5 linked regions of the Homo sapiens genome follow. The protein of the gene in region 1 interacts with the protein of each later gene in a pairwise test. Each region holds a gene or a part of one and is shown in the gene's direction. Other genes may lie near its edges.

Region 1 (3,696 bases):
TTTTAAGAAAAATATAAAAATTTTTAAGAAAGTAGGATTTTTTTTTTTTAACTACATGGAGCAAAGAGTGCCAGACAGCATTCTAATGTACAGAAATCCAAAAAGCATCCTGCTCTCCCAGGCCTTCTCCTGGCTCAGAGTGGGGGCAGCTGGGATCACGTGTGCTGGGAAGGGCCTGGTTGGACTTCTTTCTCCCTGATGGTGGCCACCACGAGGCACCTTGGCAGAGAAGGAACAGGGGAAGCTGAGACCAAACACAGAGATGACACAGCTCCTCTGAAGCTAGGCTGGAGGGGGAGAAACTGCCTTGAGGGGTGTTGGGCCTCATAAAAGCCTGTTTGTCTACTGTGCTGTGAAGTGATCCTCAAAGCTCTCAGAGGAAGGCCTCAACGGGGTGGCACCCTTCATGCAGGGGGCTGGTTGTGAAACAGGTGATGCTTCTCTTTTCAAATAATTTAGACACATTTAGTGGTCACATTCCTACTGAGCTGAAGTATGGGCCCCCTATGGAACTAAGTGGAGTCCCTTGTATTGACGTTGGCCCAGCACCTCACCCACGTTTTCTGGGCCCACTATCTCCACGTTTGCAAATTGGGTTCCTGTGAAAAGTTTCAAGAAAAAAAAAAAGGCAGAAGAGGAAAAACAGGCTCCTCTGCTGCGGCCTTGAGTTTGGGGCCATCGGAAAAAGTCTGGATGAAGAATGATTTTGGCCCTATGAGTTTCACAGCAGCCAGTGGAAACTTCCAGGAATGCTGCCCCGGGCCAGCCAGGGGCTGTTTCCGCTGCCACTTTTACGAGCTGCAGACCCCCTCCCCGGCTGGCTGGCCAGCACAGGGGGAATGTGATGGTCTCTTTCAGCTCAGCTCTGCCTCTTAGGGTGCAGTTTGTGTTCCATGGGCAGCAATTTTTCCAGGCTCTGTCCAGTGACAGAGGGTTCAGAGCCCTCACAGCCCTGATTGGCCCATTTAGAAGGGGCCAGCCACCAGGCGGAGCACCCTCCATGGCAGCTAATGTCTGTGCCGGACGCTGCAAGAATTTATAGCAGCCTTAAAGGGGGAGACTCCCTTCTAAAATGTTTCAATGTTTTATTAAATGTATGAAAGAAAGTTTCCTTTCCACTGGACCAAGGCCCAGGACTTCATGGAGCCCCAGGGAAGGGGGCAAAACCTCTTGGGAAAGCACACGGGTGAGGTTAATCTGACCCTCCTGATGCCTATGGGCTGCACAGTACCGGAGTCAAGGCTGCCATACTCACATGGGCTCATCCATTGGCCAGCAGGGGCCTGGCATACAGTAAGGCACTCAGCCAACCCTAAAGAGGGAAGTGAAATGATGCCAAAGGCGTCATGGCCAGCATGGTCCAACCCGCGCAAGTGATGAGTGGGGCAGGCTTGCTCTGGTCCAGCCCCTCTTTGGGGAGCATGCAGGCTCCCAGACAGTGCTGCCCCTCTGCTGACACTCTATCCAAAGCCAGAGGAGGAGGGCAGCTTTTCCCAGCCTGTCTGGGAGCTATGTCTGCAAGACTGGCCCTGGCCCATGAAGCACATGCAGCTCCAGCAGCTGGGGGCCTTTGGCAGGCCAGGCAGCCAGGTCCGCAGGTGAGCCATTGTGCTGGGTGTGTAAGAGAGGCCAGGAGAGCAAGGGCCCAGCTTCAGGAAGGCAGCATGATCTGCCTGACAAGCACTCTGACAAGCATGGTCAGAGTGAGCAACTGCTGGGCTGCTGAGTTACCTAGGCCATGAGCTTGGTTGTCTTTCGCACTGGGCGAAGGAGGAGAAAGTGGGCTCAGAGAGATGAAGTTGTCATGGCCTGTGATTGCCCTGGGCTGAAGTCCCACATGACATATCCTATAGTAGTATTCGTTGGACTTGGACAGGCAGAGACCCTCCTGGGATCAGGGGACTCACCTCCCTGCCTTTGTCCCCTGCCAGCCTGGGAGGCTCTTCCAGGTGTGAGGGGAAGGACCCAAGTGGAGTGCCATCATTTGTGGGTGCAATTTTCTCACCTCTGGAGTGGAGGTGGTTGATGGTCTCCAGTTGTTTATGGACAGTGCCTGGCTCAGACAAGGAAACTGGTTTTGCTGCAGAACTCCAATATAAATGCCAGGCCACCAGGGTGGGGGGTTCCTGACCCCTTGGTTCTCTTGAGAAATGACCAAAGGCTATGGGACCTGCCATCTAGTTTCCCTCACTGTGTCCCCACCCCCTGCCCACAAACATTATAGATCAGCCATCCAGAGCCAGGAGAAGCAGACATAAAGGCAAGGGCTATCCCAATAGCACCAGAGACAAGGGGCCTGGCAGAACCCCTGGGTGGAAAGAGCCAGCTGGCATTTGGGCAGTGGCTGAGGCAGCCAAGTGGGGACTGGCCAAGGGGGTCCCTAGAGCAGCCTGGCGGCCCTTCTGTGTTCTGACCCAACCACTGTTTATTTTGCAGACAGTCTCCATTCTGGAGCAGCGGTTGACACTGACAGAAGACAAGCTGAAGCAGTGTCTGGAGAACCAGCAGCTAATCATGCAGAGAGCAACACCATGATCAGGGGAGCAGGAATCAGGAGCTCGGTGGATTTGCAGGTGGCAGGCCAGGGATTTGTACCATGGGACTTGGGTAAATAAAGGGGACTGAACTCTGTGGGAATCACATCCATACTGGAGCCCTGGATTTTTGCAGTTCTGCCCTCCACCTTGCTATCTGCACCAGGAGGCTCTCCACCTGGCAGCCAGAGGTCCCCAGTGGGCCGGGCTCACACACAAATGATGCTTCAGACCCGAATGAGAGGACCACATTTTGCTTAATGTAAAGGAGCCACTTGAAAATGTCTGCTCCTTCGGGGTCCTGAGATTGTGGCTCCCCCTCTGGAGGAGGTGGCTCCACGATGCCTTGATTTTCACTCATCATTTGGACATGTGACTGGCTTTTCCTACCTCTGCCATGGTGTAGAAATTGATTGCACATTGATTGGATGAGCCGGGGGTTTTCTCTAAATCTGACTAAAGGCCCAAAGTGGGCCCATCTGAGTCAGGTTTGTTGAGAACAAGCCCTCTCAAGTGGGTGGTGGCTTTTCAGTGGCCCTGATTTCTGTTCCACACGTGTTCACTGGAGCCAGGTGACTTCCTCCTTGCGTGAGTGAGGGCACAGGAATCTCAAAATTAAACCTGACTTCATTGCACTTGTTGCAGGAGTGGCTTATGCTGGATGACACTTAATCAATCTTCCCATCCCCAGGGCCCAAACAGAATGAGAATGGTGACTTGGGACGGCCTCTGCCAGGATTGCCTCTGAGGCCAGGACCCCCCTGTTTGCAGCTGTTCAGGGTGTCGGGGAACAAGGGCAGTCAGAGCCCTTGCATGCACCCACCTCCCTCTGGCTGGCCCCCACTGACTGCTTCTGTTGGGACTCAGAGGCCTCAGGCACCCAAGTTTCCATTTGCTCCTGAGGGCTTCCATAGGGTCCTCCCTCTGCCCCTGTGCTGGGGAAGCCAGGACAAATGTTTTCCCTGTGTCTGTGTGTCGCCCGTGCCTTCCGTCTTCAGCTTCTTGGGGCTCAGCCAGCCAAGGAGGTCTTTATCCTCAAACACACCTGCCCTGCCCTGGGGAATGGGAGGTGGTGTTAGATCGTCCCAGGAGCTGTCAGTACCACGTGGTCAGTGGGTTCACAGCCTCTGCAGCCTCCAGGTGGAAGCAGAGCCTGCATGCC
Region 2 (3,320 bases), on another chromosome or scaffold:
ATGAAAGCTGTTGGTTCCTTTCCCCAACACACACACACCGAGTTGTATCACGAAAATGTCATACAATTTCCAGGTTTTCTGAGTGGTGGGCTCAGATTGAGGTCAAAGGATCAGACGACCTCTAACGACCTTCATGTCTCTGTTGATGATCTGGGGACAGCCAGATCCCCTGTGTCCAGGGAGTTCCTTAGTCCCTTGCCACCACCAGAGAAGGGCAATTGCCACGGGAGCTGCAAAGACCCTATTCCTACTCCTGGTGCCTTACTTATGCAGCACGACTGAATTTTTTGTTTTGTTTTGTTTTGTTGAGACAGGGGCTTGCTCTGTTGCCCAGGCTGGAGTGCAGTGGCACAACAATGGCTCACCGCAGCCTCGAACCCCTGGGCTCAAGCGATCCTCCCATCTCAGCTTCCTGGGTAGCTGGGACCAGAGGCGTGAGCCGCCATAGCTGGCTAATTTTTAATTTTTTTTTTGCAGAGATGAGGTTTCACCATGGTGCCCAGGCTGGTCTCGAACTTCTGGGCTCAAGTGATCCTCCCTCCTTGGCCTCGCAAAGTGCTGGGATTGCAGGCATGAGCCACCGCCCCCGGCCTGTGGAGCACACATGAGTTTAAAATTACTTTCCCTTCTGCCTATATTTCCGAGGAGGAAACTTCATGCGCAGGGATCTTTCTTAGTGGATTTAATGGCTAAAAGGTCTGTCTGAATCCAGGACGCTGGCTTTAGCCTTCCTCGGCAGCTGCCGTAACCCCGGTGTCTAAACCTGAAGCATCCCAGGAGCACCCACTCCAGGAGTTTTCTCGGCCGCGGAACTCATTAGTTAGAGCGCCCTCTTGTGTTCTCATGTGGTAATCGGTCACTGAAGGACTTAAAATGGTCCTTAGCCAACACACAGTAAAACTTTTCCCTCTTCTGACCCCAAGAGGTCAGCCACCCATTTCATGAGCATATACTGGTCGCCCCATCAGCGTTCTCTGATTGGCTAACTGAACCCACTCCCCGACCTAGACTCAAGACAGGCGAAGTGACGCTTAGGTCAACATTCACTCACTAAAGCAACGACTGTCGGGCGATTTTGTCTCCCGCTGGTTTTGGAATGGTGTCTGGAGACATTTTTGGTTGTCACAGCTGGGTGGGTGTGCTCCCGGCATCTGGTGGGTAGAAACCAAGCATGCTCCTAAACATCCTACAGGCACAGAACCGTCTCCCACGACCAAGCATGATCAAGTCCCAAATGCCAATAATGGCCAGGTTGAGAAACTCTGCACAGAAGCATCCAGTTATTTGTCTGTTTGCTCAACAAGCTTGTGCTCATCATGCTCTGTGTTCCTGACGCTGTGCTGGGTGTTGGCGGTGGGAAGATTACAAGAGTCACATGGCAGCTGTCCTCCTGGAAGGTACAACCCAGTAGAGATGCAGACTAACAGAGAGCCAATTACAAAGCAGTGTGACAAGCGTCATGGTGGAAAATTAAAAGCTCAAACAAGGGCACATGGGAGGGGCTTCCAACACAGACTTTGGGGGATCCAGGAAGGTCTAAGAGGAAAGTGGGTCTCACCAAAGCCTTGACCATAGGCAGAGGGTACCAGTGGAAAAGGTGGGGTGAAGAACATTGAGGACAAAAGGAAGAAGTGCAGGAAGGCCCTGAGGCAAGGGAGTGGGGGGTGCCCTGGAGGGATGGCAGCAGGGCAGTCTGTCAGACCCAAGTGGCCTCCAGCCCTAGAAGCCAATTAGTCCTCCTCAAAAAGCTGTCACTGTCCCCTAAGAATTGCTGCCAGGCTCCCACTGGCCTGACTCAGTCTTTGAGAGTCTTAAGGAGGAGGTCTCTGAAAGGTACACACCAAGAACTCTCCCCAGCACAGCTGTTTTTAAGACTCTCCACCAGCGTCATTGGCGTGTTGGGAAGAAACCCTCTGCCACAGAGGCCAGCTTCAGCCTTTGCCTAACACCGCAAGGGCAAATGGAAAGGTAAACGGGAAGGAGATGTCTCCCCAGCAGGCTATTTGAGGACAGTCTTCCCTGCAGAAGATCTCAACCTGGGGTCCACAGAGTGGAAATGTTAGAGTAGGGAGCTAGGCAAACATGAGCAGGACAGGTGAGGGCCCCCACAGGAATGTCAGGCTACCATCAGGTGATGGTCAGGTGGTTGTTAAACTGTCTCTGTAAAATAATAATTGGTTGCAGCCAGCTCCAAGCAAGGACAGTCTCTCAATAGATACAAAACACCCTGATCTGGTGATCAGCCGCTTCCCGATAAGATCTCAGGAGCTGGGCAAGCAGCCTGGAGCATGCGCACCAAGAGGCAAAATGGCGGAATTTAACCAGTATATGACCTACCTTCCTCTGGGAACGCACGACTGGTAAGGGGAAAAATGCCTCAAGTGAGCATGCGCGCAACTTCAGTAATCACACTGTGCATGCGACCCCTTCCAAGTGCTGGCAGGTCACCACATACGCGGACAGCCTGCTGCAAGGGAAGAATCAGGGGAGATGAGACGTAAATCCCAGAACTATGCCAAATACATAAAACCCCAAGTTAAGGGTCAGGCAGGGCACTTAGATCTCTCAAGTTGCCTGCCTGACCCAAGTGTAGTGTACTTCCTTTTGTTCCTGCTCTAAAACTTTTTAATAAACTCTCACTCCTGCTCTAAAACTTGCCTTGGTCTCTCCCTGTGCCTTAAAACCACTTAAAACCACCTCTGCCCCTCAGCTGAGTTCTGTCTTTGAGAAGGCAAGCATCAAGTTTGCTGCAGACCCATTGGATTCACCACTGGTAACAGAAGTTGGGGTAAGGCGTGGGGCCTGAGAATTCTCTAAGAGTAGGTGCAGCCGGGCGCGGTGGCTCACGCCTGTAACCCCAGCACTTTGAGAGGCTGAGGTGGGTGGATCAGCTGAGGTCAGGAGTTCGAGACCAGCCTCAATATGGGGAAACCCCATCTCTACTAAAAATACAAAATCAGCCGGGCGTAGTGGTGCATGCCTGTAATCTCAGCTACTCGGGAGGCTGAGGCAGGAGAATTGCTTGAACCTGGGAGGCAGAGGTTGTGGTGAGCCAAGATCGAGCCATTGCACTCCAGCCTGGGCAACAAGAGCGAAACTCTGTCTCAAAAAAAAAAAAGAGTAGGTGCAAAAGGTTATGAGGGTGTGCAGTTTTCTATGGGAGAGAATCCATAGCTTTTATCCATGTCTTTGTTTGTTTTGAGATAAAGAGTCTTGCTCTGTCACGCAGGCTGGAGTGCACTGGTGTGAACATGGCTCACTGCAGCCTTGACCTCCCGGGCTCAAGCAATCCTCCTGTCTCAGCTTCCCAAAGCTGGGAC
Region 3 (4,230 bases), on another chromosome or scaffold:
TGGCCAGGTGCGGTGGCTCACGCCTGTAATTCCAGGACTTTGGGAGGCCAAGGCAGGTGGATCACCTGAGGCTGGGGGTTCGAGACCAGCCTGGCCAACATGGTACAACCTCTTCTCTACTAAGAATACAAAAATAGTTGGACTTCGTGGTGCACGCCTGTAATCCCAGCTGTTTGGGAGGCTGAGGCAAGAGAATCACTTGAACCCAGGAAGCAGAAGTTGCAGTGAGCGGGGAGATTGTGCCACTGCACTCCAGCCTGGGGGACAGAGAGAGGGCCGTCTCAAAAAAAAAAAAAAAAAAAGTACACCTTAATCTGGTTTCAAGGTGCAAGATCTGCACCTATCCTTCCATTTAAGTTTCATCAAACCGCTGCTACCTCCCCGTCTCCCACACAATTTATGGGACTTCTAAGTTCCCTCTAAAGGGTCCGAACACCTACACTGGTAACAAGCCACCTGGATTTGAATCCTGGCAAGACAACTTACTATCTGACCTTGGACATTGTGCTGTTCTTAACCTCTCCGTGCCTCGGTTTCCTCATGTGTATGAATAACATCAACACCTACATCAAAGTTTGCTGTATTAAATTTGATAATATATGCAAAGCATTTAGAAAAGTGCCTAGCTCATAGAAAGCCTTATGTAAATATTAACTATCATTTTTTTTCTTTTTTGGGGTGGTGGGGGAGGGGTTTCGCTTTTGTTGCCCAGGCTGGCGTGCAATGGCACGATCTCGGCTCACCACAACCTCGGCCTCCCGGGTTCAAGCGATTCTCCTGCCTCAGCCTCCCGAGTACCTGGGATTACAGGCATGCACCACCACGCCCGGGTAATTTTGTATTTTTAGTGGAGACGGGGTTTCTCCATGTTGGTCAGGCTGATCTCAAACTCCCGACCTCAGGTGATCCGCCCGCCTCGGCCTCCCAAAGTGCTGGGATTACAAGCGTGAAGCACCTCGCCCGGCCTAGCTATCATTTTTATACAAGTGCTGGGTTTTGGGAGAATGTAATGATGGCTTTTTTCTTACTAAACTTTCAGTGCAGGAGGAGGAGAAAGAAAGTAAATAGTTATATGAACACAGTAGAAAGTCAAAGTGGAAAACAAAAAGAACATAGAACCCAGGTGAGCGGTCCAGACCTCCCCCCAGAAACCTAAGAATCCATAGAAATGGGTGGGAAGCGGAGAAGATCCTCCAGACAGCAGGTGGCGATGTAGCATCCCCCAGAAGGCCCGCTAACAGAAGCTAGGAGGACGCGCTACCAAGGTCACGTGTCCCCGGCGTTCACTCGCTCTTCGCTTCACGACACTCGCATCCTCACGGGTGATTGGTCTGCGTGCGGCACGTGGGCGGGGTACCGGGGCGGGCCGGGGAGGGGCGGGGTGGGCGGAGGAGAGGGGCAGGGGGCGGAGCTGGAGGGGGTGGTTCGGCGTGGGGGCCGTTGGCTCCAGACAAATAAACATGGAGTCCATCTTCCACGAGAAAGTGAGTGTCCGCGTTCGGTGGGGAGCTGTCTGCCGCGCGGTGGCGGGCGTGGAGCGCGGCATCACCGCCTCTCGGAGGGCTGGGTGGGGCCCGAGTCGCCCCCATGCCGATCTCGCCCGGCGAGGGGCGACGCCGCAGCCTCCCGCCTCCTCGGCTCGAGGAGGGGAGCATCACCTACGCCCCTACTTCCCCCGCGGCCCCCGCCCTGGGAGCCGGGAGGGAGTATGGGCGGGGCCGGGGGCGTCTCGGGACACGGGAGTGGGGTGGCGCCCAGTGGGTTTGCTTCTGCCTTTCTCCGTCACTTTCCATCGCTTTTCGGAGGATTCCTTCACCCCTCCCCAATCCTTCCCTCTCCCTAGGGTCTAGCTAGAGTCATCTCTGGGACACCTCCCTCAACCCCTCCTACCCTAATCCTGGCAGAATTAACTTTTCCTCCTCCGGACTGCTCAATTCTATATTGGAGTCTTCCCTACACGTAGATCTTTGGGGTCTTGTTCGTGTCTTTCCCCTGCACTAGGTCCGCGAGCCTCCCGAGGGAGGAGACCTTGGCTCGCCCACTGTAGGGCCTGACATTTAGGAAGTGAAGTAGGAAACCCGGCGTGCCCCTAAACAGGGAAGTCGTCACAAGAGTTTTTATTACGGGATGTTTGGGTTTGGTTTCTTTTGGTACTCCCATCTTTCCGGAGCAGGCGGCCAGCTTTGTTTTTAGGTATTAGGAGTGGACTGGGATGATTTTGTTGTAGTCTGCCTAGCCTGCTGTCCCTTTAACTCTTCCGTGACCATGCACTTGAAGATACTGTTTGTGATATGTAAAGAAACTCCTCGTTTCTCTCATACTATTATCCAGCCATTTGTGTGTGAGTGAAGCCTTCCCCAGGACAGCTTTGGCACATGGTATCATGTTTCATAATAGTTTCGTGTTTGGAAAGAGTTGCTGGTAAGGCTGTTATTTAATAGGAGGAGCAAAGGGTTTTTGTTTTATTAAATACTTATAAATGATCATTTATCCCAGACATTTAAAATTCACACACACACAACAAATAAAGCAAAGACAAAAGAATACATTTACCAAATGTAAATCTGTAGCATAAATTTTTTTTAATTTTTATTTTAAAGATGGGGTCTCATTCTGTCACCCAGGCAGGTGTGCAATGGAGAGATCATGGCTCACTGCAGCCTTGATCTCCTAGGCACAAGCGATCCTCCCGCCTCTGCCTCCAGAGTAGCTGGGACTACAGGTGCATATCGCCAGGGCCAGGTAATGTTTTTGGGAGAGACGGGGTCTCGCTGTGTTGCCCAGGCTGGTCTCGAACTCCTGGACTCAGGTGATTCTCCCACCTCGGCCTCTCGAAGTGCTGTGATTACAGGCGTGAGCCACTGTGCCTGGAACAAATTGTTAAGTACAATGCTTTTCATTGTAGAAAACATCTCGGAAACTTTTGAAATAGGCTGATGTTCAGTGGGGGAGGAAGGACTCAGTCGTATAGTTGTCACTAATTTTTTGACTTGATTGACATGACTCGTAAATCATAGACAATAGAGATTTGGTTGCTTGGCTGAGTAGAGTGCGTGAAAAATACACACGTACTTTTTTTTTTTTTTTTTTGAGATGGAGTTTGGCTCTTGTCACCCAGGCTGGAGTGCAATGGCGCCATCATGGCTCACTGCAACCTCCGCCTCCCCGTTCAAGCGATTCTCCTGCCTCAGTCTCCCCAGTAGCTGAGATTACAGGCGCCCGCCACCACGCCCAGCTAATTTTTGTATTTTTAGTAGAGACAGGGTTTCACCATGTTGGCCAGGCTGGTCTCCAACTCCTGACAGGTGGTCCGCCCGCCTCGGCCTCCCAAAGTGCTGGGATTACAGGCGTGAGCCACCGCACCCGGCCATATTTTTGTTATTAATTTTCAAAGGCTTTGGTGTGGGACCACATTTCAACATGGAAGGCCTTAAACATGTTCCACACTACTTCCTGAGAATTAGACAAGATTTTTAACAATATTGTTACCTAGTTGGGACACATTTGTACTGACCCATGGGATGAAAAAAAGCTGAGTGCTAGCCTAGTGAAAATCTACTTACCCGAAAGAAATCCCTCTTAGTCTGGGTGCAGTGGCTCACACCAGTGCTTTGGGAGGCCCAGACGGGCGGATCATGAGGTCAGTAGTTTGAGACCAGCCTGGCCAACATGGTGAAACCCCGTCTCTACTAAAAATACAAAAAATTAGCCAGGTGTGGTGGCAGGCGCCTGTAATCCCAGGTACTCTGGAGGCTGAGGCAGGAGAATTGCTTGAACCCGAGAGGCAGAGGTTGCAGTGAGCCGAGACCGTGCCACTGCACTTCAGCCTGGGCAACAGAGCGAGACTCCGTCTCAAAAAAAAGAAAAGGAAAAAAGAGTCCCTCTTAATTATCAGCATGTGTATAGGCCTACAGATACTTCAGGAATACCTTTACCATTATCATCAACTTGTATCTACATAGCATGTGAAGATTCAACAATTTAGTTTTTTGGGCGTCCTCAAGAGTACGCACCTATAACCATATGGCCCAATTGTTAATCTCCTATACAGTCCATTCTGGGAATGTTTGGGCTTACTGTGCCATTTTTCCGTTCACTGCCTTCCCCTCTGCAATATACCTTTAACCCTTGCTAGGTCCTGGGTTTGGAGAGCCAGAGAACCAACTTTGGCCCTAAAGAAGCTGTGTAGGTAGCAATATCTGCCTACGAAGGGCCTTGCAACCATTTCCT
Region 4 (2,720 bases), on another chromosome or scaffold:
CTAATAAGTTTGTGTTAGAAAAGTTTCGACTTATTTCTTAAAGCTTTTTTTTTTTTCCCATCACTCTTTACATGGTGGTGATGTCCAAAAGATACCCAAATTTTAATATTCCAGAAGAACAACTTTAGCATCAGAAGGTTCACCCAGCACCTTGCAGATTTTCTTAAGGAATTTTGTCTCACTTTTAAAAAGAAGGGGAGAAGTCAGCTACTCTAGTTCTGTTGTTTTGTGTATATAATTTTTTAAAAAAAATTTGTGTGCTTCTGCTCATTACTACACTGGTGTGTCCCTCTGCCTTTTTTTTTTTTTTAAGACAGGGTCTCATTCTATCGGCCAGGCTGGAGTGCAGTGGTGCAATCACAGCTCACTGCAGCCTTGTCCTCCCAGGCTCAAGCTATCCTTGCACCTCAGCCTCCCAAGTAGCTGGGACCACAGGCATGCACCACTACGCATGACTAATTTTTTAAATATTTGAGACGGGGTCTCCCTGTGTTACCCAGGCTGGTCTCAAACTCCTGGGCTCAAGTGATCCTCCCATCTTGGCCTCCCAGAGTATTGGGATTACAGACATGAGCCACTGCACCTGCCCAGCTCCCCAACTCCCTGCCATTTTTTAAGAGACAGTTTCGCTCCATCGCCCAGGCCTGGGATGCAGTGATGTGATCATAGCTCACTGTAACCTCAAACTCTGGGGCTCAAGCAGTTCTCCCACCAGCCTCCTTTTTATTTTTTTGTACAGATGGGGTCTTGCTATGTTGCCCAAGCTGGTCTTAAACTCCTGGCCTCAAGCAATCCTTCTGCCTTGGCCCCCCAAAGTGCTGGGATTGTGGGCATGAGCTGCTGTGCCCAGCCTCCATGTTTTAATATCAACTCTCACTCCTGAATTCAGTTGCTTTGCCCAAGATAGGAGTTCTCTGATGCAGAAATTATTGGGCTCTTTTAGGGTAAGAAGTTTGTGTCTTTGTCTGGCCACATCTTGACTAGGTATTGTCTACTCTGAAGACCTTTAATGGCTTCCCTCTTTCATCTCCTGAGTATGTAACTTGCAATGGGCAGCTATCCAGTGACTTGTTCTGAGTAAGTGTGTTCATTAATGTTTATTTAGCTCTGAAGCAAGAGTGATATACTCCAGGACTTAGAATAGTGCCTAAAGTGCTGCAGCCAAAGACAGAGCGGAACTATGAAAAGTGGGCTTGGAGATGGCAGGAGAGCTTGTCATTGAGCCTGGCAATTTAGCAAACTGATGCTGAGGATGATTGAGGTGGGTCTACCTCATCTCTGAAAATTCTGGAAGGAATGGAGGAGTCTCAACATGTGTTTCTGACACAAGATCCGTGGTTTGTACTCAAAGCCCAGAATCCCCAAGTGCCTGCTTTTGATGATGTCTACAGAAAATGCTGGCTGAGCTGAACACATTTGCCCAATTCCAGGTGTGCACAGAAAACCGAGAATATTCAAAATTCCAAATTTTTTTCTTAGGAGCAAGAAGAAAATGTGGCCCTAAAGGGGGTTAGTTGAGGGGTAGGGGGTAGTGAGGATCTTGATTTGGATCTCTTTTTATTTAAATGTGAATTTCAACTTTTGACAATCAAAGAAAAGACTTTTGTTGAAATAGCTTTACTGTTTCTCAAGTGTTTTGGAGAAAAAAATCAACCCTGCAATCACTTTTTGGAATTGTCTTGATTTTTCGGCAGTTCAAGCTATATCGAATATAGTTCTGTGTAGAGAATGTCACTGTAGTTTTGAGTGTATACATGTGTGGGTGCTGATAATTGTGTATTTTCTTTGGGGGTGGAAAAGGAAAACAATTCAAGCTGAGAAAAGTATTCTCAAAGATGCATTTTTATAAATTTTATTAAACAATTTTGTTAAACCATTGTCAAATTTGTTTTATTTGATTCCACCACATTTCCAGTCAAGAGAAAAGATGCATGGAGATGGCCTCAGTCAAAACGTGGAGAAAGAGGCCGGGCGCGGTGGCTCATGCCTGTAATCTCAGCACTTCGGGAGGCCGAGGCAGGTAGATCACTTGAGCTCAGGAGTTTGAGACCAGCCTGGGCAACGTAGTGAAACCCTGTCTCCACAAAAACACAAAAATTAGCTGGGCGTGGTGGCGCGCGCCTGTAGTCCCAGCTACTCGAGAGGCTGAGACATGAGAATCACTTGAACTCAGGAGGCAGAGGTTGCAGTGAGCCGAGGTTGCGCCACTGCACTTCAGCCTAGGTGACAGAGGAGACTCCATCTCAAAAAAATAAAAAAATTTTTAAAAAACTTCATGCTGAAGTGACTTCTCCAGAAGTTTCTATCATTCTACTGGATGAACATGGGAGAAACTACATTCACATGGTAACTTTATTTGAACAGTATCCATCCATGTGGCATGTGATGAAACCAATAAAATTCCCATGTCCACGGGAGACTGTGTGGGCCAAGCTGAAGGACGGGACAGAGCAAAGTTTCAAACGATGTTCTCGGGGTCAGCAAGTGAGTACAGGCCAGTGGTTCTCTGCTGGGGAAGAATGTAGCCCCCTCCTCCATGTGACATTTTGCAATTTCTGGAGTACCTGGGGAGGTGGTCTTGTCACCACATCAAGGCCAGGGGTGCTGCTAAACATCCCTGCACGGGACAGTTCCTCACAACAAAGAATTATCCAGCACAAAATGTCAGCCACTGTTAAGAAACCCTGGTGTAAGCCTAAAACTTTTCTCTGTTGAAGGGG
Region 5 (3,847 bases), on another chromosome or scaffold:
AGTGTGAGCCGCCATCTATTCTAGTTCAAAAACATACTATGCTTAGAATTTGCACTGCATAGTCATTGGCTGCTGGACATAAAGGTGACTGGCTTACCTATCTTGGGATGCTTGTGAGGAGGTGGGCATAAGAGAGGGCTAGCTCTCATTTGGTGTGTCCTGAGCCCATGGTTCAGAAAGAGTTGTTAATCTGAAAGAAAAAAGACATAAGAAAGAATTCAGAAGAGGCAGCTGTAGTTACTAGTCATCAGTTGGGGAAATGCAGTTAACTATGATAAGGACAGCTGGTGGGCAGAAAGGGTCTCTCACCTTGTTGAGAGTGACCAGGGTGGAAGACTTCAGAAAGGCATGGGAAGTCAATAAACTGAAAGATGGGGACATGATTTTCTCAGCTCTAGGACAAACTGGAGACCCCGAGCCTAAAGTAGCCAAGTCTTTGCTACTAGGATTCAGGTGATAAGATTTCCAACCCAATCTTTTCAAACCCAGACCAAACATCCTCCTTGCTTCTCAAATTGGGTTATGTATAGTCACAGGATAAGCCATCCCATGTCTTTCTCAAGCTTCAGTTGTATTTGAAGACTTGGCGAGTAGAGACATTTTATTATGAAAACATACAGGAATAATGAAAAGTTCTGGCTTTTTAAGGTAGATGAGATTATATAATCACTTTGGGCTGTGCCATCAAATTTTTTCTCTTTCCTCCCCAGCCAAACACATACCCACTCGATCTCACATACCCATTTGCTCTCTGCCACTAAGGCTACTTTGGAAAAGTTTGAGAAGCAGGACTCTATGATAAAGATTATATCCGTTGCCGTTGATCCTGCTCTGTCTCAGGGTTGGGGGTGAGCAGACCTTTTCCATTCCCAGCATGTATCCTTTGTGAGATAAGAGTTGTTGGTTAAGAGTTATTTTGTTTCTTGCAGGGGTCTCCTTATGCCAGGGACCAGGTTACCCTAACAGCAGGAAGGTTGTGTAAGTATCACTGGGGAGTACAGATATGTGGCCACGGGTTATTTATTTAAAGACATAAAGTTCTAAATTTGACCATCTGATTTCTTCACTGGCCTCCAGACCTAGAAATTGAGGTGATTATGTTGAGTCCCTAGACTAACCTCAATGTTCACTTTTCCCATGTGATGTTCCTTGAGCATCAGCTCCGTGTCAGGTTTTGGACTGGGAGTGTGCCCACTCTCCACAGGTGTTTGGATTATAATGAAAGTTAAGTTGGAATCCTCTTTTTATGGGATATAGAAGGGTGCTCCTAGATATTCTGTTTGGATGTAAGTGCAGCTGAAAGGCTCGAGGTTACATTTATTGTGGAGATTGAGAGCATCCTCTCAGTAGCATAGTTACTCATTTTTAAAAACAGTAAAAGCATAAAACTGGTTGAGTCCTGGGACTGACTGACTAGTTTGGAGGGAATGCTGTTATTGCATAATGCAGAGTTTGGAGAAAGGCTACCCATGTGTGTTTCAGATTAACTTCTGCGTATGAATGTTGCTTAAATGCTGCTTTGCATTCCAAGTGTTTTTGTGGTGGTGCTAAGAGAATGCTCTCTAGTAACCTGTTCAGCAGCTGTCAGGCTGCTTACTCTACAGGGAGAATCCTCAAAGTGAAGAGGTCAGCGGATGAGCTTCTTACTTACTCTACATCACAATGAGGGTTTTTGTTGTTGTTGTTTTGAGACAGGATCTTGCTCTGCCACTTTGGCTGGAGTGCGGTAGCCTGATCTTGGCTCACTGCATCCTCAGCCTCCTGGGCTCAAGAGATCCTTTCACCTCAGCCTCCTGAGTAGCTGAGACTACAGGCACATGCCACCATGCCCGGTTGTTTTTTGTATTTTTTGTAGAGATGGGGTTGTTTTGCCATGATACCTGGGCTGGTGTCAAACTCCTGGGCTCAAGCAATCCATCCACTTGCCTTAGCCTCCCAAAGTGGAGGATACAGGCGTGAGCTATGGTGCCTGGCTGATTTTTTAAAATTTGAGTAAATGTTGCACTCAGTACTAGAAATATGAATCCCGGTGTTATTTTGGAGGGCAGTTTGATAGTCATAAGTCTTTGAAGTGTGTGTACCTTTTCTTTTTTTCTTTTTTTCAAGATGGAGTCTTGCTCTGTCACCCAGGCTGGAGTGCAGTGGCGCGATCTCGGCTCACTGCAGCCTCTGCCTCTCGGGTTCCAGCAATTCTCCTGCCTCAGCCTCCTGGGTAGCTGGGATTACAGGCGCACGCTACCACACCTGGCTGATTTTTGTATTAGTAGAGACGGGGTTTCATCTTGTTGGCCAGGCTGGTCTCTGAAACTCCTGACATCAGGTGATCCGCCCGACTCAGCCTCCCAAAGTGCTGGGATTACAAGCATGAGCCACTGCCCGGCCTGTGTGTTCCTTTTCATCTAGCAATTCCATCTCTAGGAATCTATACTGAAGAACTCCTGGTATATTTATCTCAGATTTAATATCTGATAATATAAATATTATCAGATTTATCTTAAAATGGCAAAGAGCAAGGGATTGGCTAAACTATAGCATGTTCACATGTTCACACTATGAAAAGTGGGAAAAAGCAGGTTACAAAATAATTTCATTTTCTACTGTGTGGTATGATCCCATTGTAAGTATTCTTTTTGCTATTTCTAATATTCTGTAGTGAACATCTAGTTATTTAGAGATTCAAAATGTATTACTCATCTGCAATCAAATGAAAATTGGGGCAATCATGACTCTCTACAATAAATACACTAAATATTTGAAAGTAAATAATGAAGAAAAAGTAAACTTTGTGTGGGATCACCCCAATCATGTCACCCTAATCCAGTATCTTTGTGTGTGTTGTGCCTTTTTTGTGAATAAGGTACCCACTTTATTTAATAAATCTTTTATTGTAAAACAATTTTTGGTTTTATGTTTTTACTAATAGTATTATATTTACATGATTAAAAATTCAAAAAGTAAAAAGGGTGTCCATGAGAAGACTTTTTTATCCTTGTCCTCTAGCCCCCCGAATGCCTCTTGGGTAGTGGTGGCCACCACTCCGGGTTCCTGGATGACTTGCAGAGCAGCCTCTGCACTTGCATGTTACCTGTTAGTTCTTGCCTATAGGCATGTACTTTACAAGGTTACAAACTATATGTAGAACAATTTGTATTCTTGTAGTTTTTAAATATCTTCATTTTTTCTTGGTTATACATAGACCTTATAGTTATTTTGACATTATAAAAGTAAAAATACCTAAAGACAACTTAAATCTCTTTTACTTTTCTATTATAAAAATGCTTGTTGTGGAATATTCAGACAATCCTGAAGTGTAAAAAGTGAAAGTCCCCATCCAAATCATTCTCCCAAATTGTGTAAGTGTGCAACACATAACCAGAGATACCATATATGTCTACATCTCTCACCCCTCAGAGGTAACCACTGTTAATGGCTTTGTGCATACAGGGTGAGCTGATTCTCCAGTTTATATTATTTACTGTAAAGGCCATATCAGTAAACGCCTTGGTCTTTGAGGTTCGTTTTGAATGAATCCAGAATGTGTTGATGTGCTGTTTTCTAGCAAGAGAACCGAGTAGGAGATACCATATGGGGTTTGTGTGTGGTTTTTTTGTTTTTGGGTTTTTTTTTTTTTTTTTTGGCATAACACCTTGTTTTACTTCCGAGTTAACCTTGTTAATCTTGCTGCCTTATCTGATCTAAATCTGTTATCTTGAGGGCAGAAATTCCATTATACCTTGCACAATGGCTTGTACCCTGGGCAGGCCGTAAATCTATCTCGGATTTAGTTAAGGAAGAGACCTGGCTGGACATGGTGACTCACTCCTGTAATCCCAGCACTTTGGGTAGG

Evidence for each region.
Region 2: the proteins of POC1A (region 1) and PECAM1 interact in binary tests that used the Homo sapiens proteins (3 or more experiments, as listed by UniProt).
Region 3: the proteins of POC1A (region 1) and ATXN3 interact in binary tests that used the Homo sapiens proteins (3 or more experiments, as listed by UniProt).
Region 4: the proteins of POC1A (region 1) and CDH1 interact in a two-hybrid assay, tested with the Homo sapiens proteins (one large-scale study listed by IntAct).
Region 5: the proteins of POC1A (region 1) and DLST interact in binary tests that used the Homo sapiens proteins (3 or more experiments, as listed by UniProt).

What each region holds. Positions count from the first base shown.
Region 1 is NC_000003.12:52,074,726-52,078,421, reverse strand, and holds the end of POC1A (POC1 centriolar protein homolog A), read left to right. Parts: intron 1-2,436; coding exon 2,437-2,535; 3' UTR 2,536-3,196; downstream 3,197-3,696.
Region 2 is NC_000017.11:64,318,748-64,322,067, reverse strand, and holds the end of PECAM1 (platelet endothelial cell adhesion molecule precursor), read left to right. Parts: 3' UTR 1-2,653; downstream 2,654-3,320. UniProt on the Homo sapiens protein: Cell adhesion molecule which is required for leukocyte transendothelial migration (TEM) under most inflammatory conditions.
Region 3 is NC_000014.9:92,103,783-92,108,012, reverse strand, and holds the start of ATXN3 (ataxin-3 reference isoform), read left to right. Parts: upstream 1-1,430; 5' UTR 1,431-1,460; coding exon 1,461-1,484; intron 1,485-4,230. UniProt on the Homo sapiens protein: Deubiquitinating enzyme involved in protein homeostasis maintenance, transcription, cytoskeleton regulation, myogenesis and degradation of misfolded chaperone substrates.
Region 4 is NC_000016.10:68,833,665-68,836,384, forward strand, and holds the end of CDH1 (cadherin-1 isoform 1 preproprotein), read left to right. Parts: 3' UTR 1-1,873; downstream 1,874-2,720.
Region 5 is NC_000014.9:74,884,657-74,888,503, forward strand, and holds part of DLST (dihydrolipoyllysine-residue succinyltransferase component of 2-oxoglutarate dehydrogenase complex, mitochondrial isoform 1 precursor), read left to right. Parts: intron 1-929; coding exon 930-978; intron 979-3,847. UniProt on the Homo sapiens protein: Dihydrolipoamide succinyltransferase (E2) component of the 2-oxoglutarate dehydrogenase complex. The 2-oxoglutarate dehydrogenase complex catalyzes the overall conversion of 2-oxoglutarate to succinyl-CoA and CO(2).